7 linked regions of the Homo sapiens genome follow. The protein of the gene in region 4 purifies or fractionates together with the protein of the main gene of each other region. This does not show direct contact. Each region holds a gene or a part of one and is shown on either strand. Other genes may lie near its edges.

Evidence for each region.
Region 1: the proteins of GTF2A1 (region 4) and TBPL2 purify together in Homo sapiens (affinity purification with mass spectrometry, with the first as the bait; one large-scale study listed by BioGRID). This does not show direct contact.
Region 2: the proteins of GTF2A1 (region 4) and INPPL1 purify together in Homo sapiens (affinity purification with mass spectrometry; 3 studies listed by BioGRID and IntAct, with this or other methods). This does not show direct contact.
Region 3: the proteins of GTF2A1 (region 4) and BCAT1 purify together in Homo sapiens (affinity purification with mass spectrometry; 2 studies listed by BioGRID and IntAct, with this or other methods). This does not show direct contact.
Region 5: the proteins of GTF2A1 (region 4) and PTCD2 purify together in Homo sapiens (affinity purification with mass spectrometry; 3 studies listed by BioGRID and IntAct, with this or other methods). This does not show direct contact.
Region 6: the proteins of GTF2A1 (region 4) and PDIA6 fractionate together in Homo sapiens (co-fractionation; one large-scale study listed by BioGRID). This does not show direct contact.
Region 7: the proteins of GTF2A1 (region 4) and CYB5D2 purify together in Homo sapiens (co-immunoprecipitation; one large-scale study listed by IntAct). This does not show direct contact.

Annotation. Positions count from the first base shown.
Region 1 is NC_000014.9:55,423,617-55,427,116, forward strand, and holds part of TBPL2 (TATA box-binding protein-like 2), read right to left. Parts: intron 638-3,500; coding exon 543-637; intron 469-542; exon of another isoform or gene 427-468; intron 1-426. UniProt on the Homo sapiens protein: Transcription factor required in complex with TAF3 for the differentiation of myoblasts into myocytes. The complex replaces TFIID at specific promoters at an early stage in the differentiation process.
Region 2 is NC_000011.10:72,231,267-72,234,766, reverse strand, and holds part of INPPL1 (phosphatidylinositol 3,4,5-trisphosphate 5-phosphatase 2), read right to left. Parts: intron 3,270-3,500; coding exon 3,152-3,269; intron 2,528-3,151; coding exon 2,431-2,527; intron 2,142-2,430; coding exon 2,003-2,141; intron 1,893-2,002; coding exon 1,793-1,892; intron 1,693-1,792; coding exon 1,604-1,692; intron 1,327-1,603; coding exon 1,245-1,326; intron 1,113-1,244; coding exon 1,023-1,112; intron 487-1,022; coding exon 373-486; intron 241-372; coding exon 152-240; intron 1-151. UniProt on the Homo sapiens protein: Phosphatidylinositol (PtdIns) phosphatase that specifically hydrolyzes the 5-phosphate of phosphatidylinositol-3,4,5-trisphosphate (PtdIns(3,4,5)P3) to produce PtdIns(3,4)P2, thereby negatively regulating the PI3K (phosphoinositide 3-kinase) pathways.
Region 3 is NC_000012.12:24,876,102-24,879,601, forward strand, and holds part of BCAT1 (branched-chain-amino-acid aminotransferase, cytosolic), read right to left. Parts: intron 2,549-3,500; coding exon 2,429-2,548; intron 854-2,428; coding exon of another isoform or gene 827-853; intron 1-826.
Region 4 is NC_000014.9:81,210,960-81,214,459, forward strand, and holds part of GTF2A1 (transcription initiation factor IIA subunit 1), read right to left. Parts: intron 1-3,500. UniProt on the Homo sapiens protein: TFIIA is a component of the transcription machinery of RNA polymerase II and plays an important role in transcriptional activation. TFIIA in a complex with TBP mediates transcriptional activity.
Region 5 is NC_000005.10:72,354,873-72,358,372, reverse strand, and holds part of PTCD2 (pentatricopeptide repeat-containing protein 2, mitochondrial), read right to left. Parts: intron 171-3,500; coding exon 1-170. UniProt on the Homo sapiens protein: Involved in mitochondrial RNA maturation and mitochondrial respiratory chain function.
Region 6 is NC_000002.12:10,785,839-10,788,785, forward strand, and holds part of PDIA6 (protein disulfide-isomerase A6 isoform d precursor), read right to left. Parts: intron 2,932-2,947; coding exon 2,859-2,931; intron 1,602-2,858; coding exon 1,443-1,601; intron 1-1,442. UniProt on the Homo sapiens protein: May function as a chaperone that inhibits aggregation of misfolded proteins. Negatively regulates the unfolded protein response (UPR) through binding to UPR sensors such as ERN1, which in turn inactivates ERN1 signaling.
Region 7 is NC_000017.11:4,149,697-4,153,196, forward strand, and holds part of CYB5D2 (neuferricin isoform 1 precursor), read left to right. Parts: intron 1-194; coding exon 195-335; intron 336-3,500. UniProt on the Homo sapiens protein: Heme-binding protein which promotes neuronal but not astrocyte differentiation.

The sequences.
Region 1 (3,500 bases), about 26 Mb from region 4:
TTTTCAGCAGTTGGGGAAAAAATATTACATAACACACATAAATTATGTCACGATATGAAATTCACATTTCAGAGCCCATTCCTTTATATAATGTAACATTCAGAGCTGCTTTCACACTACGATGGCAGTGCTCAGTAATTGTGACAGACCCTGTGGCTCACAAAGCTTAAAATATTTAGTATTTGGCCCTTTCCAGAAAAGAGTTTGTTAACCCCTGTGTTAGGACCTTGTGTGGCCATTAAAAGCCTTTATGAAGAGTTTGTAACAGTAAGTTTAAGCCATATATGTTATCATGGATAATTCTGTAAAAAAATCAGGATGTAAAGATGAAATACTTAATAAAATGACATAAAAACATGAAAAAAATGTTGTTTTAGGTACTGGGACCTATGGGTGATGTTATTCCTTTCTTATTTTTCATTCCAGGTATTCTGTATAACAAGAATTACTTTACCATGGTGAACAAAGGTATTTAAAAGAATAAGCAAAGCACATGCATAGCAATTACATTTTATGAGTCAGAAAATAATCTTAGCACTTACCTGTCAACACAACTTTTCCAGATACAAAGATAAGCAACACAATTCGTGGTTTTACCATTCTATAAATAAGACCAGGAAACAGTTCAGGCTCGTAACTGTTAAGATGTAAAAGGAAAATGTTAAAAATAGCACTATTCAGCTCCTTTCCCATAACATGTAAGGCCCAGTATATTAAAGTGCATATTAAAGCAGTTGTAAATAAGTTAGCTATTTTATCAAAAACTTTTTAACTATCTTGATGAAGAGTCTTGAGTGTCCTAGGTAATATCTTATGGAAGTTAGGAACATAATTAATTTTGGGTCATAACACAAGTGCAAGCTATCCTGGATGGTTATTAGAAATCAAGGTAACTTAGGGCATCTGATTTAGTGTATTGAGAGCTTGTTGGTTAAACATCCTCTATCTTTTCAAAAAAGTCTGTTAATAAGAATACATAATCATGTTTTTCTGGGTTTCCAAATTCTCCAATAATAAACATATTTTGTATGCTTTTACGAACTGCTGAAGTTAACATTTTTAGCAGATAGAACCTAAAAATATTTCTAGGCCACTGCTATTTGTATTTGAACAGGTGCTATATAAATAAAGAAAATCCAATTATCCCGAGTTTTTACAATTCAGGATTTGTTGCTATAAATAGTAACTCATATTTACTACTAAATATAAGCTGGCCACTCCATGGAGCGAAAGATGATAGCACTTAAGAGCTTCTTCTCCACACTCCAGCCTGGAGAGGAGGGCAGATTCTTAGAAAGGCTTGAGGAACCTACCAAAAAGAAGTCAGGAAGTGAGAGGAGGTGAATAAAACTATTCTCAAAGCAGTGGCTAATGGACAAGAAATATAAGAAAAAAAGACATCCAAGCAATGGAACACTAGCATCTTTGCACTTAAAGGGTGAATCCAGACTGCATGGAAAAGCTCCATTCAGTTCAGCAATGAACAAGACCCAAAAACAACAGCAGATGTGGAACCTTTTACTGGCTCCAGAAAGGCGCATCTTGAAGTGAGTCTTGCCCATCTCAAGTATAGGAGGTCATTGTGGGTGGAACTGTCTTCTGGAACATCACTCTGTCTTACTGCAGGGAGCCTGTCAAGACTTTCTCCCACTAACCACTTCCCAACACTGGGGAGACCATGACACTAGGGGGAGCCCTGAAAAACCCTCCAGGGCTATGAGATCCAGGCCAAGAAAATGAAGGCTGGAGACACAAAAAGAAGATTTCCATTTGATCTTCCAGCTAAATTTTAAGACTTAGAAAAGAGAAAACAAAAACTTTGGTATGTAAATGATATTGAACTGCATTTAGCTTTTAGAACCATGGTTTTAAGATTACCAGTATAATGTGCTCCCAATTAGGAATATACTTCATTTTATTTATTCTCTGCCTCATTCCAAAAGAAGGCTGAGGCAGAGAAAGAGAGTGGTTTTGGTTAGGGATGGAGAACATTTCACAAAGATTGAGAATATCGAACACCTGCCAATTTCTTGGCCAACCCAACTTTGACCCATCCTTCAAGTCTCATTTTAAATGTTACTTCCCCAAGAAAATCTTCCTTGATCTCTACCCACCCCCAATTACATTAAAGACCCTGCTTTATGGTCTCATAGCCCCTGAAGGGCCTTACCTTCACAGTCACCATGTTTCATTACTGTCATTGACTTGTCCATCTTTTCTTTTAGACAGTGATCTCTATGTGGGCAAGGGACTATAGCTATATTGCTTGCCATTATCATCCTAGCATCTGCTACATGGTAGTCACCTAGATCTTATTCATATAGCAAGTATTTATATCAGGATACCTTTGAATTAAAAATTAAAGAGGGGGCCGGGTGCGGTGGCTCACACCTGTAATCCTAGTACTTGGGAAGTCGAGGTGGGTGGATCGCCTGAGGTCAGGAGTTCAAGACCAGCCTGGCCAATATGGTAAAACCTCGTCTCTACTAAAAATACAAAAATTAGCCGGGTGTGGTGGTGGGTGCCTATAATACCAGCTACTCAGGAGGCTGAGGCAGGAGAATCACTTGAACCCTGGGGGGTGGAGGTTGCAGTGAGCTGAAATCATGCCACTTCACTCCAGCCTGGGCAAAAGAGCAAAACTCCATCTCAAAAAAAAAAAATAAATAAATAAAATAAAGAGGGAAAAATTCTCATTGACAACTGTGGAAATGATTATGTCATAGAAAGATTACCAGAGAAAGTGCCTGGTAACAAAAGGAGATACTTGTATTATTAAATGTTGACATACAAATTTGCAGAACCTGGGAAACTGAATGACCTTAGGGGTTTAACACAAGGCAAATTTGGCCTGATAATTATAACTGATTATGTAGCATGGTTCCCCACAGAGCTACAGACAATTAGAGAGGCCTCATGTTAAAAATTCAAATCTTCTAAGAGGTGTTTTTAATGTTCCCAGTGTCAAGAATACACACTCTGGAGTTGTAATCCATAACCTGAGGCTGACAGCCGAATGGAGAGGATGAGGGGGAGGCAAGAATGAGACTAGAAATAGAAAGTTGTGGGAATACAAAGCAAGCTTCCTGGCCAGATTAAAAAAAAAAAAAGAAAAGAAAAGAAAAGATGACTGAGATCATAAAACTGTCCCAGGAGGAAGATAGAACAGGGATGGGCCCACTCCGTCTGATGTATTCTCACTGCGCCTTACTGGCAACCCTTCCAGAAGCTGGTAGTAATAACAAGGGGCACCTATTCTAGACTTAGATCTGCTCTGCAAGGAAGATGCTGGTGAAAAAGAAATGAATGGACACTTGGGAAGAACCACACACATCATTTTCGAGCCCTGAATGGCCAGAAGGGAATGCTAAGTCTAATGTAGACACAACCTTAGAGTTCGGGCAGAGCTCTTGCAGATGTACACTAAGCCGATTCAGAGAAAGATAGGCTGGAGGCTCGTGACTTGAGAGTCTGGAAGATAAGACAACTTAAGCACTGGG
Region 2 (3,500 bases), on a different chromosome or scaffold from region 4:
ATACACACACACACACACACACACACACACACACTCTCTCTCTCTCTCTCTGCTGGCCCCACACTCCCTCCCAGGCAGGCTCTCCAATAAACTCTTATGTACCCCTCTCTGTGCCCTCACCCATAAGCAGGGGCCCTGCCCACAGCCTCACCGTGGGCAGCTGGCGTGAAGACCACTGCACTTTGAGGAAGTTGATGTTGTCACTGCTCTGGGCATCATTCTCAAAGCTCTTCTTGTATTCTGGGGTGGGGGTGGGAGACACCCAACTGAGCACCACCTCTCAGCTTCCTTTCCCCCTAAGTAGGGGGCTGACTGCACCCTCTTGCCTCCCATCCTCCTTGGCCCACACCCAGCCCCTGCCACGCCTCTGACCCTCCAGGCAGGTAGAGTAGAACTCGATGAAGAACTTGGTGCGGCTGGCTGTCTTCACAATGGCCTCGATGCTCTCAAACTCAATGTAGGCCTGGTCTGAAGTCTTTGAGAGCCCTGAGGAGAAAGGGAGGAGAACAAACAGGAGGACTGAGAGGATCACAGGAGGAATGGGACAGAGAAACAGGGCCCTGGGACAGGAAATCAGGGGTCCAGAGCAAGGAGGCAGGGCCAGGAGGGGCCTCCCCAGTCCCAAGCCACCAACAGGGAATCTCCAGAGGCCAGACCCTGGACCAGAGCAAAGAGACAACCCAAGGATAAAAAACCCATTGAAGAGGGTGCTGGGGACCAGAATGCCTGCAGGATTCCCACACCTACAGGCATACTCAGGGACACACACGTGGCCCTAGACAGACACAGACACATAGATAGGTGTACACTCACGTATGCACACACACTCATGGGCACACAACTCTTGTGATGGCCCAGGCGCACAGACACCCTGACACATCACACCTTGAGAAACACTCCTGCACTCACTGGTACACACACCCACACACACACTTACATAGTCAAACCTATGTACATCCCGAGGCCACCACCTGTGCCCACCTAGATTATGCCACACCCACAAGCATATCTGGAACAGTCACCTTTCTTGGAGATGAACTGGGAGGTAACTCCAACCTCAAATGTCCCAAACACGGGGGAATGGTCGCTGGTGACGATGTCATCAGTGCAACCTGGGGAGAGGGGATAGGAATGGGGACTCAGGGGGAATATTCCCACCCTCGGCTCCCACCTCCCAAGGTTAGGGCAGAGTCCAGATGGTGACCACCCCAGATCTCCCATCACTCTGTCCGGGAGGCTCTGACCATAAGAATTGCAGATGATGTGAGTTTCAGGGTAGGATTTCCACAGAATCCGGTCACACCATGAGGGCACATTGGTCCGGACCTGGGGCAGGGGATGGCAGCATGGTTAGAGCTGACAGCTAGGAGGCTGCTTGGCATGGACCCCACTCCAGAGCTGATGAGTCCCCACACTTCTATTACTAGAGGCCCTAGCACCCACCTCCCTTCTTGGATCCTCAAAATACCCAGGATCACCCAAAGGCCTCAGAGGGGCCATGGAGGCTGGAGTGGAAGCTGCAGAGGCCCATACCCTTGACCCAAATTCTTGATTCATCGCAGGCCTGCGGTCCCCCAAGGCCCATGCCGTTTTCTTGGCTCACCCCAGTTGGCTTCTGCTTGTGCCAGGCATATGTGTCCCGGGAACCCCGCTCATAGCGGTAGGTGGGTGGGAAGGAGATCTCCTCCTCACCTAAGGAAAGCAGGAGACAGGTGGGGTTCAGGGCCCTGACACCCAGGGATACTGCAAGTCTCCTAGCCCTCAGATCACCACCTACCAGGCCCACACTCACTGAATCGAAGGAAGACCTTGTGCTTCTCCCGCTCCAGGTTGAGCTGGTCCACCCTGAGGAGGGGCTCAAACTCTTTCCTGCTGATGTAGTTCAGGATCTCCTGGGGTGGAGGACACAAAGGCTAGAAACATTCCTCCGGAGCCAGAGCCAGGGGTGATAGCCCATGTGGCCCTTAGCCTCCCTACAGCCATGGCAGGGCCCTGCTCGCACCTGGATATCCATGTCCAGGCGGTAGTTGAGGTCCCCAAACCAGAAGAGGTGTGTGAAACGCAGAGAGATGTCAAAGGCATTGAGCTGCCGGTCGCCCAGCGAGAGCAGCCGCAGGATGTCCAAGTAGTTTTGGTTCCTCCTAGGGTGAGGGGTGCGTGGTGGGGAGGGGTAGATCCCCAGGGTCAGGGCCAGAAGTCAGGGATAGGCATAAAGGGAAGAAGTCTCAGGAGTCAGGGATGGGGTAAAGATCCGGGCCCCTGGGGACAAGGTTAGGGTCAGGAACAGAAGGGTCTTGAATTGGGATAAGAGAGCAGGGGGTCTCTGGAGACAGGCCTGCGGGAGGGTCATGGGCTAGGGTATGGGAGCGGGAACAGGCCTCAGGTGAATGGGATGGGTGTAAAGAGACCATGGGAAAGGCGCCCCCTCACCGAGCCGTCTTCTCATTTCCCGAGGTGAGGTGACAATTCACAAAGCCAAATGAGGTGCCATTAAACATGAAGGAGACGCCCACAGCCCCCTTGTTCCCTGTTAAGGCAAGCAAGAGAGGAAGGCCTGGGTCATCCTCAGAGGGCTCCCAACTCTCCCTTCTGCCTCTCAAAGCTGCAGTGAGAGGATCCTCCCGCTGAGCCCACCAGACGCTGTGACATGGGCAGGCCCCTGCACACACCCACACCTTCCCTGGGGGAGGGGGGGGTCCTCATTGGGCACACATGGTCTGTGTGGATGGCCTGAGTCTGTCTGTATGTGTGAGCAGAGCCCCTGGAGATCACAGGGGACCCCAAGGGTGAAGCTGAAAGGCCCTGCAGATTCTGCGCAGAATCTACCTGGGAGAGCACCAGACCGAAAATCAGGAGACCTGGGCACAATGCCTGGCTCCACCACTTACTTGCTGTGTGACCTTGGGCAGGTCACTCAACCACTCTGGGTTTGAGTTTTATCATCTGTGAAAAGGGGGTAATTATCCTGGCCTTGCCTTCCCAGTGGTGCTGGGAGAGATTTAGAATATGAATATGTTTTTCAAAGTTCAAAGTACCCTATATATGGGGAAACTAAGATCACCAAAAATGGGGCAATCCTAGGCTTGAGAGGAAGCAGAAGCCATGGACAGAGAGACGCTGCCACTCTTGGGCACCTGCCAGCCCCACTTACCCAGGGTGTTGGCGATGCCAGTCTTCACACTGGACGTACTGACATGGCTGATACGGTTCTCGTGCTCTGGCTTGACCAGCACTGCCACCTTGATATTCCACAGTGATTGCATGGCAATCTGGGTAGAGAGTGCATGGTCACCACTGCCCTGCTGCACCCACTGCCTGCATTTCCCCCTGCACTATAAATAGACTTTTGTGTCCATCACAGGGTAGGAAGGCTTGCCACCCCTCTTCCTGACGGACTGGAGAGAAATGGTTCCTCTCGTGGCATGAAGGACTCAGGTCAGATCTCCCAAAGGATATGCTCAGGGACCAGAGAAAAAGCCAGTGAAGCTGTGCTCCCAGGG
Region 3 (3,500 bases), on a different chromosome or scaffold from region 4:
AAGCAAAAAAACAGAATGGTATGTGTACTCAAAGTAAGTTTCTACTAAACTCATATTGTTTTCAAACATCATACAGTCAAAAACTCCTAAGTAGGACCATCGTAAGTTGGAGTGCAGCTGTATTAGAAAACTAGATCAAGAGGAAGAGGAGGGAGATGTAAAAAAAAAAAAAAAAAAGAAAGAAAAGAAAAATGAAAACTAGATCAATATATTTCATGAACAGTGAAACAAAAATTCTTAAAATATTAGCAAACTGAATATAGCAAGATAAAAAAATGGATTATTCACAATGACCAAGTAGGATTTAGCTTAGGAAAATAAGGTTGATTTAACATCCAAAAATAAATTGATATAATTCATTCATTAATAATGTAATAAAGTACAAAACCACATAATCATGTCAAGAGATTCAAAAAAAGCAATTGACAAAATCCAACATCCATTCATGACAAAAACTCTCAACAAACCAGGAATAGGAGTATCAGATCTTAGACTGAAAAAGTATCTCAGAATAACTGGAAGGTAGTGCTTTGAGATCAGTAACAATGTTTCAACCAACTTTAAAAAGTACTCCTTCCTATCATAAAGTTAAAAATAATATTAAAAGAAAACCAAACACTGCATGTTCTCTTATAAGTGGGAGCTGAACAATGAGAACACATGGGCACATGCAGGGAGCAGCACATACTAGGGTCTGTCGGAAGGGGCGGGAGGAGGAAGAGCATCAGGAAGAATAGCTAATGGATGCTGGGCTTAATACCTAGGTGATGGGTTGATTTGTACAGCAAACCACCATGGCTTACATTTACCTATATAACACACCTACCTGCACATGTACCCTGGAACTTAAAAGCTGAAAAAAAAAAATTCAATTATCTTAAAATGTCAAAAAACTTATGGAAGTAGATGACTTTTTAAAATTGTTCCTATTCTTTAAAACTTGTCAGAGAGACTGCAATTCACGAAATTCATTATCTAGATCCTTACACGGCTTTCGAAAGGTATCAAGGATACCAAAGAAAACACTTCGGTATTTATTCCATGGCCCTATATATCTCTCTACCTTTTGCATTCATACAGCCTAGTAGAAAACCTGGTAACCCCGCAACACTTAGTAGAGAACAGAATGGCTAGGCTATAGCAAAAGCGCTCTATCTCACACTCTCTTATTCTAAATATCTCCATATGTTCCCTATCTCTTTACCTGCCAGCCACATTCAATCTCCTTCCATCAATTATCCCTCAATATCACACTCTCAAGCCACAGCTGCCTAGCAGATACCAGAGACAGGTGACAGGGTCTTCATATAAACATACTCGTCCGCTCAAAAGGCCTTGGCCCCTCCAGGCATGCCCAATCCATGCCTTTATTCACAAGGGCACCCAACCAAGAGACTGTGACCCACCAGGAAATCATAAGGTCATGTTATTTAAACCTACCATCCCAGCTCTTCAATTTCCTTCCTTAACTCCCACTGTGAACTTTATTTTCACCATTTTTCTATGTGGGAAGGGGAACCTCCATTCTCACTCCATGCCAAGTAATCCCAAGACCTCATGAAAATGAAAATTAGCAGCTCTCCCTCCCCTAAATTTTAAAACCATTTCTACCTCAGAGAAGTACTGCCACAATGGGAGGCACTGCACTTGTAAACTTAGAAAATAATGACTAGTCTTAATTGGGCAAGGCAAACAGCACTGCATTTACTCATTTATGTGCTGTCTATGGCTGCTTTAGTACTAAAATGGCAGAGTTTAAGAATCCTCTCCGGTCAGGTGAAGTGGCTCATGCCTGTAATCCCAGGACTTTGGGAGGCCAAGGTGGGAGGATTGCTAGAGGCCAGGAGTTTGAGACCAGCCAGGACAACAGAGTGAGACATCATCTCTACAAAAAATTTAAAAATTAGCTAGGCATGGTAGCACATGCCTGTAGTACTAGCTACTTGGGAAGCTGAGGCAGGAGGATCACTTGAGCCCAGGAGGTCAAAGCTGCAGTCAGCCGTGATTGCATCACTGCACCCCAGCCTAAGCGACAACGTGGGCAAAAAAAAAAAACCAGAGAGAGACCTCAAAAAAAAAAAATCATTTCCTACCTAAGGTCACAGAGATATTTTGTATTTCTTAATAAACGTCTTAGTATTTTGTCACATTTAAGTATATAATCGAATTATAATTGATTTTGGGGTATGGTAAGAGGTAGGGATCTAATTTCTTATTAGAAACTATATGGCCACAAAGCCAAAAAATATTTACTGATTGGCGCTTCACAGAAAATGTTTGCTACCTCTAATCTTGACAATCAGAAGGAAGAAGTCATTAATGATGCTACTGGGGGGCTACTGCAAACTATATGCTAGAAGTTTCAAACAACAATAAACAATAATAACTTGCCCAGCAAAGTACCCCAAAATAAAGAGTCAGTTTGCACCTCAGTTCCAATGAATGTAGGACGAATATACAGACTAGCAGATGTTGAATATGGGACCCATTCTTGATCCAATTTCACAAGCTGTTGAATACACTCTAAGAGCTCTTCTTTGTCAAATACCTGAAAGAATGAAAAACATAATAAATGACAGAATTTTCTCACAATGTGGCAATAATAAATGATCCTCACTGAAGCATTTAAACTGTTAAAAAATTAATAATCCCAACACAAAAAAATAAGAAATGTTTGAGGTGATGGATATCCTAATTATCCTAATTTTTATTTATTTCTTTCTTATTTGTCCTAATCATTACACATTATATGCATGCATGAAAACATCAGTGTACCTCATAAATATGTATAATTTATGGTACCAATAAAAAAAATTTTAAAGTAATAATAAAACCAAACAATTTTTTCTGATTTTCCCCCCAAAAATTGTGATGGGATGACGAGCTATCCACATGTGAAAGATAAGATTAGATCCCTACATCTTACCATACCCCCCAATCAATTCTAATTAGATGATATACTTAAATGTGACAAAATACTAAGACTTTATTTAAAAAGTACAAAATATCTCTGTGACCTTAAGGTAGGAAAGGATTCTTAAGTAGGAGATGTAAAACACAAATCATGAAGGAAAAAAATGGATAAAATGTGACTATTTGAAACTTAAAGACTTCCGTTCTTCAAAAGATGTAAAGCAACAAACTGGGTGAAGTTATTGGTAGCATGATCAACAAAGAATTTTAACTGGTATATATATTTGGATATCCCCAAAGTCAATGAAGAGATAGATAACCCAATAGGAAAATGGGCAAAAGCAAAGAGCACTTTATTTCTAAAGAAAAAAAAATTACATCTACTAGATGGGTGATACTTCATAAAATAATTTAGTCTCTGCTCACTTGCAAAGTAGAGAAACATACTTTCAGAGATGTGATGGGTCACCTAAGGTAGAAATGAGTCAGTCATAAGCATCTGAGTAAAGCTCATGAAGTCAGAATTTGTCTATTTAAATATTGACCTGTAACAGCAATAATAATGTAGTAATGTTATAGAAATTGGG
Region 4 (3,500 bases):
ATTCAGGTATACATTTGTATATTGTGTTGACTAATAACTAAAACTTACTAAATTCTGTGTACTTTATAAATACATGTACAAACTAGTTTTTTCACAAAAATCCTATAAGATAGACATTATTATCTCCCTTTTACAGAAAAAGAATCTGACAAGAAAGAAGTTAGGTAGCTTATTCAAGATCACTCTAATGGCAGACAGAATAGGGATATAACCCAGGTGGTCTGACTTCAATGTCCCAGTCAGGGCTAGAGAGTGAATGTCTCTGCATTCTGTACCCCAGGACCCTCACTTGCCTCCCTTTAATCCCAGTACTAGTCCAAATTCCTAGTCTCTAAACTAGACTGCTGCTATCAGAGCAGGTCACCGACCATCAAAACCATCTCAGGTGCCATTCACCAACAACCCAAGATCTAGTCAAAACTCTGTTACCTTCCTGCTTACTGCTAAGTACTGTATATGTCACATAGAGGCAAAAGGGCTAGGTTCATGGCTCTACCATTTATTAGCTAAACGACCTTGTCAAAGCACATTCCAAGTCTACTTTCTCACCTATAAAATGTGATGAGACCTACTGCTCCCCAAGTTAATCCCCTTATCACTCCCCTACTGTTAATCCCCAAGACCATGGAGAAAATGTCTCCAGGCCACATCAGAGACCTTCACTGCAGCCCGTCACATCACAAGCCCAGAGGTTAGGTGGCTAAACCTGGCAACATGGTGGGCTAGAAATTCTGAAGGATTCTCCTACTTTCACAAAACATCTAGCTCCTGGATAAAATATATTACACTTCTAGGTTCCCAAGAAATAATGCTGTAGAAACAGAGCTTTCCCTAAGAATAAATGAAATGAAATAGTAGATTATTATTCAACTTATGGTCCAAATATTTACACATAATTAGAGTGTATCAAGTACTTTATATATATATATATATATATATATATATATATAACTAGAGTATATTTAGAATAGTGGTTCTCAGCCAGAGGTGATTTTGGCCCCCGGCGACATCTGGCAATGTCTAGAGACATTTTTGGTTACAACTGAAGAGTGCTACTGGCATCTAGTGGGCAGAGGCCAGTTGTGCTGCTAACATTCTACAATCAATAGGACAGCCCCTGCAACAAAGAATTAACCAGTGCAAAATGTCAATAATGCCAGTGTTGAGAAATCTGAACCAGAGGCAGATAAACTGAATTTCAGATATACTTCCAATTGAGGCAACTCTTCTCATTTGTTTTATTAAAAAGAGAGAAAATGTTTTATATCTCCCACAGTACTTGACATTTGGACATAGGTAGGTTGGAAAATCTAGAAATCAGGTTGATTTTATCATTCACTTTGAAGAGAATTTCTACAGTGTCATTCCCACCCACAGACACTCACCAATCCAAAACACATTTACATTCGAATATAGATTTACTGAAAACCAGGGCTGTATTTTATTGTGTTTTTTCTACCTCTCACAGTTTACACATTAAAGTAGGCCTGCAGTGTTTCAAAAGATAACCTCAAAGATTGGGTTGAAATATTCTTATCATCTCCCTTTCTGCTTACCTCATTAACCCTCAAATTACATGCATTCTCATCATTCATCTTTGTTCTCAATCTAATTCACCACTGCCTCCTTTACAGCCTTATACAAGCTTTTGATAAGTTTGTAAAATGGCCCCAGAAAGTAGGGAGAGGGGCTAGAGCTAATGACAGGCTTTCTAAACCATAAAATATGAAATTAAAGTTCGTTTTATTAAGCAAGAATGTCTAAACCTGAGCAGTCCAATATGGCAGCAACTAGCCATATGTAGTGATTTAAGTTTAGATTAATAAAAATTCAGTTCCTCAGTTCCACCAACCACATTTTGAGTGCTTAATAAGCACATGTGGCTAGTGGCTACCATACTGAAGAGCACAGGTACAGAACACTTTCATCACTGCAGAAAGTTCTATTGGACAATGCTGGCTGTCCAGCTGTTAAATCTAGGGCATATTCTAGAAATTCTAATGAGATCCTGAAGAAATTCAGTGCAGAGAATTAAAATAACAAACTCATTTTAGTCTAACCGTTTTATTTTTAACTCCAATACAACCCAGATAGAAGAGTATGGCCCATTTAAAAACAACAAGAATATTACACTATTTTGTTCAGTTAGATTCAGGTGCCGTATCTATTATCAAACACTTCAATCAAATACTTACTGAATGCCAACCACATATGCCCAGACATCGTGGTAGAAGCTGGGGATTCAAAATTGAGTAGGTCACATTTTTTGTCATTTAAAAACTAACCATTAAACTAAAAATCAGTGTGTTACCTATAAAATATGTACTAAAAAAGTCATATATAACAAAAATGGAGGTGGAAACATTTGGTCTCAAAGATGCTCATTCTCTTCGAGAGAATGTCTTGATTCTACTATTAACGATAGGGAAAATTCTCCAGATTTTCATTGTGAAAAGCGAGAGTAGATAACAATCTAGACTGACCACTAGTTTGACCTAGAGAAAATTACCTAACATCTTTAGAACTGATTTTCTACACCTAAAAATGCTGCATCTTCTATACAAGGTCACAAAACTACAAGGACAACCATTATAAAAGTATAACATAAATTGCAAAAAACTCATTCCACGTTACACTAAGGAATCAAAAGAAGCTTGTTTTCTTATTATTCACATCCCTCAGTTACTTCATGCTACTTGAACAATTTATATTGTTCTTCTTCCAACTCATGTCTCGGAATTAGCACTCTTACACTTGTATTTTTAGATACCTACTCTTCACTATTAGTAACCTGTAATTTTTCTCAAGGTAAATAAATATTTGCTCATCTGTTTCACACCTATATATTTTTCCTACCTCACACAGGAAATATTTTTGGGTTTTTCTGTTTTTTTTTTTTTTGAGACAGAGTCTTGATCTGTCACCCAGGCTGCAGTGTAGTGGCATGATCTCGGCTCACTGCAACCCCCGCCTCCTGGGTTCAAGCCATTCTCCTGCCTCAGCCTCCCCAGTAGCTGGGATTACAGGCACGCACCACCATGCCCAGCTAATTTTTGTATTTTTAGTAGACATAGGGTTTCACCATGTTGGCCAGGCTGGTCTCAAACTCCTCACACAGGAATATTCTTATTGAAAATTCTAGAGAAGTTTCCTGTAGATACCTATTAATAAATACGCCAAGACCTACCTCATCACCGCAATCAAGGTAAGATTTGCAACTGGTTGCCAAGTTGCAGCCTCGACACCTATGCTGAATGGATGAGACCACAACAAATGTTCCTTAACATTTATTAACTGTGATTATTTATTTGTACATAGATTTAAAGGAGCCTAATAATCAACTTCTAAACCAGCAGTTCTAAAACTCTTTCATCTCAGGACGATTTATCAAATTACTGAGACCCGGCCGGGAGCGGTGGCTCATGTCTGTAATCCCAGCACTTTGGGAGGCCGAGGTGGGGGGATCACAAGGTCAGGAGATCGAGACCATCCTGGCTAAC
Region 5 (3,500 bases), on a different chromosome or scaffold from region 4:
CTCTTGTTTAATAGCAACGTGTGAGATTTCCTGTCCCTGGGGGTGTGGCAGAGCACAGCATCCAAAGAATCAGTGGTGACCTGGCCAGTGATGTGCAGTGTCCCATAGATCTCATCAAATTTGGCCACAAGGGCAGGCACATCCTTCACTTTTTCCCTCACTTTGGCCAGCTGGAAAAAAGCAAGAACACATCATTACATCTCTGCAAGATTTCTTCCTTATTCTTACTATAACCCTAAGAAAAAGAAATGGACATGAACAAAAATGTATGGTAGGCCAGGCGAGGTGGCCCATGCTTTAATCTAAGCAATTTTGGACGCTGAGACAGGAGGACTGCTTGAGCACAGGATTTCTAGGCCAGCCTAGGCAACACAGTGAGACTTTGTCTGTAAAAAAATTTTTTTAAAAATTAGTTGGTGTAGTGGGAGGATCACTTAAGCCCAGGAGACAGAGGCTGCAGTGAGCTGTGATCGTGCCACTGTACTCCAGCCTTGGCGACAGAGTGAGTCTTAAAAAAAAAAAAAAGTATGGTATACACCTAAAATCGTGAAAACCAGGGTACTGGGGCACACAGACAGCAGTATTACTATGAGGGATTCCAAAAGCTACACACAAAATTCAAAATTAGTACTTGAAAATCATACCTAATATAAAAAAAGGGGGGTTCAAATAACACATCATATATAATGAAACACACCAAGTAAAGGAGGTCATATACCAGTGGAATCAACTTTGTTCAATGTAATGATTAGAGCAGGAGGAGGCAGGGCCAAATTACATAGGCTTTATATATATTCCACAATAAGTTTTTTGAAATTTATTCTAAAAAAGCCATCAGAGCATCTAAAGTGGGAAATGATCTCATTTCTGTTCAAAAAGTTGCAGAGAATGAACTGGAGTGTACAGAAATGTGGAGACTATTCTGGAGGCCCACACCATAGCCCAGATAAGAAACAATGGTAGTTGAGATTGGGAAAGGTACAGAAAAGAAGGAGAAGTACACTTATGTGAGGTATATTTTGGAGTTTACACTGAAAGGACTTATTTTTGAATGGGTGAAGGAAAGGGAGGTGTCAAAGCTATCTTCTCAATTGGGGCTTTAATAGCTTGATGATGGGTGCTATCATTTCCTGATAGAGAAGACAGGGAGGCGAGATTTGGAAGGGAAAATCAAGAGCTCTGTTTGGACCTGATTGAGACGGCTGTGAACCATCTAAATGGGTATGTCTAGAACGTTGTTGGATATACAAGTCTGGGGCATGAAGGAGAGGTCTGGGCTAGAGGCATACGTAGTAGAGTCACAAGTATATGATGGTATTTAACCCCCAAAATGGGTGAACTAGAATGGAGAATGTGAAGCTGCTTTCTGAATAAAATCAGCATTTTACTTAGTTCAATCCTTATCAAGGGTACAATCTCAACACATTTCTTGATGGAATTTAATTGGGATCAAGCTTCCTAATAAATCCTTTGCCCCTCTTCCACCTCTTCCAAATATATAACACTGTTTGCACCTGCACATCTTCCTTTGAGACAATGGCTCCCAACCATGCCTGCAGACAAGCAGCTTAAGCACTTCTTAATGTTCTTAAAAAAGAATAGCTTGTTTAGTCCTCATGTTCAAGGTGAAAATGACTTAATGTGCAGCATATGGCTTCTAAAAGCAGCAGAGCAAACATGCCAAGCTGGAGGTAATTTTGATCTAAAAACTGTAACAGTTCTGTTACATAACTACAGAAATAAATCAGCAATTATTTTCAATAGTCCTGTGGTGGTATAATAGCACCTATGATAGTTTATAGTCTTATCTCCCTACATAACACTTTTTAAATAACTGCTGGCATAAGCATTAAATGCACTTTGTAAAATGCAGACGTTTACAATATAGGACTCCACTTGCAATCTCACACATATATATTTAGAACTAGCTCAAAAGCTACTGGAGTTATATGAATCAATCCATTTCTCATCAAGCTGTTCCTTGAGTGGTCCCACAGTAACCAGAGGGAAGACACTGAACTAGAGGGTTCATTTTCTAAGTACAAGAGTCTTATATGAGTATTTTTCAATATAAAGTTTGTTCGGGTGCTTTAGCCATATAAATGGGTGACAATGTATTGATGGTTCAGGTCTAAGGAATGGTTGTTAACAACAATGCTGCTGAGAAAATGGAAGTTGGATTTCACATGTACACATACACACGTGACTATGCACTTTAAAATCTGTTCATGCTTCTACTTTCCCTACTTTTCTAAACTTACTCCAAAAGGGTTGGGTGGATCACAGCCTACACAGAGCTAAAACTGCAAATAGAAAGAAGCGTTAAATCAACCATATCCAGTTAGTCATTTTCCTGACAAGCTCCCTTTTATCAGAAGGAAGAAGCCTTTGGGTGGAAGTGAGGAAATGGAACAGGGCTGGGAAGGCGACAGTGTGGCAGGAGGAGGAAGCAGCCACTGCCCTCTAGTGCCAATCCTGCTGTCTCAGCCTTCAGCCTGGACCAAACTATAAAAGAGAGGCAGGAGAAATGAGGGAGGAAGAGAGGACCAACCAACAGGCCACTTGGTTGGTCAAAATGACAATATCAGTATTATTACTAACAATATGATCACTGTCAATAACGTACAATTTCTTTACACTTCTGTTTTTCACCTTAAGTTACATGCTATGAGAGATACACAAATTACTACATCTCAAATGACCTACAAGAATTCCAATTTGTGTACTTAAGCCATCAATGTGACACATGGGTTCATTTGTTTCATTTCACTTTCAATTTTTAGGAACTGTTTTTTCTCTTCATTTTTATTTAACTCTGCTTTACAGTTCTGCAAAGCATTTACATGGTTCCTAAATGAAATACATAAACAAGGTACATTCGGAGAACTCATGTTTCCGTCCCTCACTTTCACTTTCAAAACTTTTATTTCTTAATTTTTTAAAATTAAATTTAAAAAATAATTTGTCAATTACTTTAATTGTCAAATAATAATTGTGTATATTTATAAAGTTCAATGTGATGTTTCAATCTATGTGTATACTGTAGAAAGATTCAGTCAAGCTAACAAAACTATCCATCATCTACCAATGTGTCTTTTTCTGCGGTGAAACATTAAAATATACTTCTTTGGCATTTTTGAAATATGCATAATAATTAACTGTGGTTCCTAAAGACTCAATCAAAAAAACCTTTAGGACTGATAAAGTCAGTAAAGCTGCAGGTTACAAAATTTACATACAAAAACAGCAGTATTTCTATAAAAAAAGATCTGAAAAAGAAATCAACATAACCACTTAAGTTTTGTTTTTTTTATCGTAGTGTTTTTCAAAAACATAAATATATAAAAATAACTATATGGTCCCGCCTTCTTAAGGCATACTACACATACCCATTTGCATCTTACTTTTGTCACTTAAAAACATATTTAAGTGATCCATATAAATGGTAATCCATAGCAGTATATGATGTAGCTGTTCCTCATTTCCTGTCCTTTGTACGA
Region 6 (2,947 bases), on a different chromosome or scaffold from region 4:
AGTAGCTAGGACTGCAGGCCTACAACACCACACCTGGCCTATTTTTTGTATTTTTAGTAGACATAAGGTCTCACCGTGGTGGCCAGCCTGGTCTCGAACTCCTGGCCTCAAGTGATCCGCCTGCCTCAGACTCCCAAAGTGTTGGAATTACAGGCGTGAGCCACCGCACCCAGCCCCACAAACTTAATGAAAACACCCCCTTGGCCAGGCGTGGTGGCTCACACCTGTAATCCCAGCATTTTGGGAGGCTGAGGTGGGTGGATCACTTGAGGTCAGGGGTTTGAGACCCGCCTGGCCAACCTGGTGAAAACCCATCTCTACTAAAAATACAAAAATTAGCTGGGCGTGGTGGCAGGCGCCTGTAATCCCAGCTACTCAGGAGGCTGAGGCAGGAGAATCACTTGAACCCGGGAGGTGGAGGTTGCAGTGAGCCGAGATCGTGCCAGCCCGGACGACACAGCAAGACTCTGTCTCGGGGGTGGGGGGGAAAGAAAACACCCATTAACCATATTAACCAACTACAATGAGAGAGAGCTGGGAGGGAAGGAGCCACAGTCTGCCCCCCGCCGGCAGAGGCTGAAGCAGCTGATCTCACAGGGCTTCCTCCATGCCTCCCACTTCACTACTCAAGGCAGAGCTGTGACTGAGGCACCTGACTTTGGAGCCCCTACTCTCCACACAGCACACACACACGTCTCCACACAGCACACAAACTTCTGTGTCAAGTAGGAAGACTGGCAGCAAGAGCACTGCAGGCTTTCATGTACTGTTCTTCCTATTCATTATTCAACACAAGCCTCTCAACTACCTTTTGTGTGCTGAACATCTCTTATACAGCAGCTAAGAAATGAACGCGGAAGAAAGCAAGAATGGGAAATAAAACCTCTTTAGGTCAATGCCCTGTATTGCCTAAAAGATGATTAGGTGAGCTGAATAGCAGAGCAGAGTAGACAGCTCTGTATATTGGTTTTAGAACCTATCATGTTGTTTGCACATTGTTGGAGTAACTTAAGTACGCCCATTTTCAAATAAATAACTACATTCCAAAGCCAAGTGCCCAGAAATGGAAACCACATTTCCCCAAGGTCAAGATTACAATGCATATGAGGGTGAGGATGGACAGACAGGGCTGCCTCTAGCCCATATGAGACCTTTATGAGAATGAGAAAGAGCCCAGGGCCAGATGCACAGAATGGCACACAGGGCGGCCCGAGGGTAGCAATGCTTTCTCCTCATCCCGCAAGCAGAGTATTCCATGGAAAAAAGAACGAACAGGGAGACAATTTAAAAACTCTAATGTATAAACATTCAATTCTCTGGAATTAGTTTGCATTTTAAATTCCATTTATTACCTGGCTTATATATACCTAGTTCCAAATATAAACCTACAACAGAACCAAACAAACAGACAAAACAACAAACAACCTAAGAAAACAAATTACCTGAGAAACTCGTTGATGCCTTGCTCACTGAAGGAGCCTTTTAGCAGAGCAAATTTCATCTTGCGTGCATTGATGGCGGCCATGGCGGGGTACCCAAACCCTCCAATCCCCAACGCGGTCTCAAGTTCAGACTGGGCTCCAGCTTCTGTCCACAGCCACCTAGAAAACCAGACTGGTTTTTAGGGCAAATATGTCTTTTAAATTGCTTACGATCTAACTAGAAGATCTTAGAGAACAAAAGATCACGCTTCAGATATTTCGTAGAATGACAAATAAAAACAAAAGATGAGTTTCTATATGGATTTTCCCTTTTTACCTGAAATCCCACCAATATCATTTGGGTTATTAAGCATGTTCTCGCGTTCTGTAGGCATCTAATAAACATTTGCTGGACTAATGGAGGAGGAGCAAGGTCATCGAGAGAGGGACAACAGGGGGCGCTAGGTACCTGGGGAAAGCAATGGATACTGAGGACAAGAAGCAAAAAGATAAATAGGAAGGAGGCTGGGCACGGTGGCTCACGCCTGTGATCCCAGCACTTTGGGAGGCCAAGATAGGTGGATCACCTGAGGTCAGGAGTTCGAGACCAGCCTGACCAATATGGTGCAAACCCCATCTCTACTAAAATCACAAAAATTAGCCGGGCATGGTGGCGTGCGCCTGTAGTCCCAGCTACGCAGGAGGCTAAGGCAGGAGGATCTTTTGAACCCGGGAGGCGGAGGTTGCAGTAAGCCGAGATTGTGCCACTGCACTCCACCCTGGGCAAGAGAGTGAGACTCTGTCTCAAAAAAAAAAAAAAAGGATAAAATAGGAAAGAGATACACTGTTTTGAAAATGTGCCTAGATCCAGTCCTTAACTCAGAAGAGGAGAAGGAAACAATTCTATTTCCCCTTTCTCACCCAGCCTTCAAGTTCACAGTAGAATTCAGGTGCACTACTCCTTATGTGTCTGCCTGCTAACCTGGCACTCCAATCACCATGTAAAACATGATTCCTATGAGAAAAATGCATGCTGTGCTGACAGCCCTTCATTCCTTCTTTTCCTCCCATGATAAAGTTTTCACATCCTGAATAAAAACATATAGCAGAGCAGGCCGGGTGCGGTGGCTTACACCTGTAATCCCAGGACTTTGGGAGGTGGAGGCAGGTGGATCACTTGAGGTCAGGAGTTTTGAGACCAGCCTAGACAACATGGTGAAACCCTGACCCTACTAAAAATACAAAAATTAGCTGGGTGTGGTGGCGGGCGCCTATAATCCCAGCTACTTGGGAGGCTGAGGCAGGAGGGAAAAAAAAAAAAAACATATAGCAGAGCAAACATAGAACACAGCTTACAAAAACACGGGGGAACCACTCTCAAGAAAGCCTATAATCAGCTGTTCAGATGACACTCAGACAGTAAGCTCAGTAACTTACCCCCACATTTTCTTTTTGTATTTGTCTGCCAACTTCAGAAGAACTTCCAGATAAGAATTTCTGCCTGCAGCTCCTGATTTAAATAGACA
Region 7 (3,500 bases), on a different chromosome or scaffold from region 4:
GCTGAAGCAGGAGAATGGCTTGAAAGCGGAAGGCAGAGGTTGCAGTGAGCTGAAATCATGCCACTGCACTCCAGCCTGGGCAACAGAGTGCGACTCCGTCTCAAAAAAAAAAGAAAAAGAAAGAAAACAGATTCTTGAGTGGGGATGGTGTCAGTGGTTTACACCTGGGTCTGATGGAAACATCTCTGTTCCAGGCCGAGACGCATCCAGAGCTTTCGTGACCGGGGACTGTTCTGAAGCAGGCCTCGTGGATGACGTATCCGACCTGTCAGCCGCTGAGATGCTGACACTTCACAATTGGCTTTCATTCTATGAGAAGAATTATGTGTGTGTTGGTAAGTCGTCCATAGGTCATACATTTCATTTGGTTGTCTGCAGTGTTTTTAGGGGGCTGAGATTTTTTAGGGATTGGGTTCAAGCTTAAAATCTGAAAAACAGCCATGGATTTGTTTTACTTTAAATTCTGGTCGTTAGAATAGGGATGAGCCGCCCAGAAGGAGATGGATGGGCACCTGCTTCCCCCACTCTTAGTCTTGGGAGAGGATTACTAAGCTGCTTGCTTTGGCCTCAGTTTCGCCATAGCCAGTGGTTGCTTGCACCATCCTTGAACAACCAGCTCCAGAAGGGCAGCTTCCCTGTCTCACTGTGTTCGATGCATCTGGCTTCAGCACACAGCCAGAAGGGCTTGAAGCCTGAATTTGTGTTTCGACAAATCCCCTTTTATTTGGTCCTCTAGGAGGAGACAAACTTCGTGAGTGAGCTGTCTCCCAGGTGGTAGTTATGCTAATCAAACCACTGTGTAGGTTACTGCACTTGCTACTTACTGATGCTACATAAGGGACTTGCTTCTCAAATGAGACAACACCAAACTGTGTCCTAAAGCAGTGTTAAAGACTCTAAACACTAGGCCCGGCGCAGTGGCTCACGACTGTAATACCAGCACTTTGGGAGGCTGAGGCGGTTGGATCACTTGAGGTCAGGAGTTCAAGACCAGCCTGGCCAACATGGTGAAACCCTGTCTCTACTAAAAAATACAAAAATTACCTGGGCGTGGTGGCACGCACCTGTACTCCCAGCTACTCAGGAGGCTGAGGCAGGAGAATCGCTTCAGCCCGGGAGATGGAGGTTGCAGTGACCTGAGATTGCGCTACTGCACTCCAGCCTCAACGAAAGACACTAAACACTAGATTGCTTCACAAGTACTGACAACTGGGATGGCCGTAGCCCTTTCTTCTATCTATCTGCAGCCCCCACGTCTCACTGGAGTCCTACTTGGACATGACTGACTTCCTGAGGAACACCAGTATCACTTCACCATCGAAACAGGTCTAACTTGGAAGAATTCTTTCCTTAATGCCTCTGAATTTCTGCTTCTGTCATCACTGCTTGAGTTACCTTTTCTGAGAACCTTGGCATTTTTATTAACACCTCAGCTCCCTCCACATCCAATCAATCATGGCTTTTTCATAATATCTAAAGTTTGTGTCCATCCATTGTGGGCCTCTGCAGCACGCCTTTCTTCATTTTCTCTCGTATGCCCAAGATCAGTCTTGAGACCATAACCCTGTCTACCATCGAAGGCACTGACCTCTACTCACCTGCGCTTCAGAGGGCTGGGTTCTTCCCTTTCCCAATGAAGTTGCCAAACCAAGGTTGAAACATTACTGGGTTAATAAAGAAAAGAAAACCCAATAGAAAAGAATAAGAGCCAGGAGTGGTCTCTCACACCTGTAATCCTAACACTTTGGGAGGCCGAGGTGGGCGGATCACCACCTGAGGTCAGGAGTTCAAGACCAGCCTGGCCAACATGGTGAAACCCTGTCTCTATTAAAATACAAAAATTAGCCGGGCATGATGGCAGGTGCCTGTAATCCCAGCTACTCAGGAGGCTGAGACGGGAGAATTGCTTAAACCTGGAAGACGGAGGTTGCAGTGAGCCAAGATCGCACCACTACACTCCAGCCTGGGTGGCTGAGTGAGACTCTGTCTCAAAAAAAAAGAAAAAAAAGAAAAAGAATAAGAATGGAGTCCAGACCGGTGGCTCATGCCTGTAATCCCAGCACTTTGGGAGGCTGAGGTGGTCGGATCAGTTGAGGTCAGGAGTTCAAGACCAGCCTGACCAACATGGCAAAACCATGTCTCTACTATAAATACAAAAAATTAGCTGGGTGTGGTGGGACACACCTGTAATCCCAGCTACTCAGGAGGCTGAAGCATGAGAATCACTTGAACCTGGAAGGCAGAGGTTGCGATAAGCCGAGATCACATCACTGCATTCCAGCCTGGGCAACGGAGTGAGACCCTGTCTCAAAAAAAAAAAAAAAAGAACAGAGTCCTGTAAATGGGCAAAGAATGCCAGGCCAAATACTTCATACTAAGATTTGGGAGCACACTGGAAGTGTTCGGATGCGTTTGGTGTGACAAGTGAGCTGGTCTTGTTTGAATGATGTATAATGTGTTGAGGATGGGGTGGGGCATGTGGCGGGAAATGCCTCAGAAGGATTTTAGTTGATGTCAGGATCTTATTGAATACCTACTACTCATAAGTTACGGGTTCCATCCTCAGGGGGACCAGGGATGAATTGAGTCCAGTTCCTGCCCCTGTTAGCTCATTCTGTAGGATAGGGGCCATGTTAGGCTCTTTCAGGTTACCAGAAACCCTCAGGATACATCAGTGGATGAAGGTTTATTGTAAGGGTACATACTGAAGTGAGGACAGCCAGGAAGCCATCTTGGCAGCCAACATGGCCAGGCCTCAAGGGAAAACAAGATGGCCTTGGTTATGCTGTGGATACAGGATTGGCTTGGAGATGCAGCCACTGGTGATCACCATTCTCATGACACAGATTCTAGAACTCTTCCTCTGTTGCCTCTGCTACTACTGTCCTCTCTTTGGGTCTCATGTCAGAAACTCACCAAAGACAGGCTTGTCACCATATAACACAGACACCCCAACCCCCGTAGTGGGAAATTCTGTGCCAGGCCAACTCATAGACTGCAGGCCTGTGACTCGGGCCCTGATTCCTTTCTTTATTCATCTAATAAGTATTTAAAATGAATGCTCTATGCTAAGCTGTTTTATTTATTTATATATTTTTTCAGATGGAGTCTTGCTTTGTCACCCAGGCTGGAGTGCAGTGGCACGACTGCAGCTCACTGCAACCTCCAACTTCTAGGTTCAAGCAGTTCTCCTGCCTCAGCCTCCTGGGTAGCTGGGATTACAGGCATGCACCACCACGCCCAGCAAATTTTTGTATTTTTAGTAGAGACAGGGTTTCACCATGTTGGCCTGGCTGGTCTCGAACCCCTGACCTCAAGTGATCTGCCCGCCTCAGCCTCCCAAAGTGCTGGGATTACAGGTGTGAGCCGCTGCGCCTGGCGCTAAGCTGTTCTGAGTACTGCGCCTCACTAGTAGAGAGAGCCATCATAGACAAGTAAACAGATTGAACAACTCCACATAGGACCATGCATCAAACTGTGATGTAATACGTTTGGGAGCT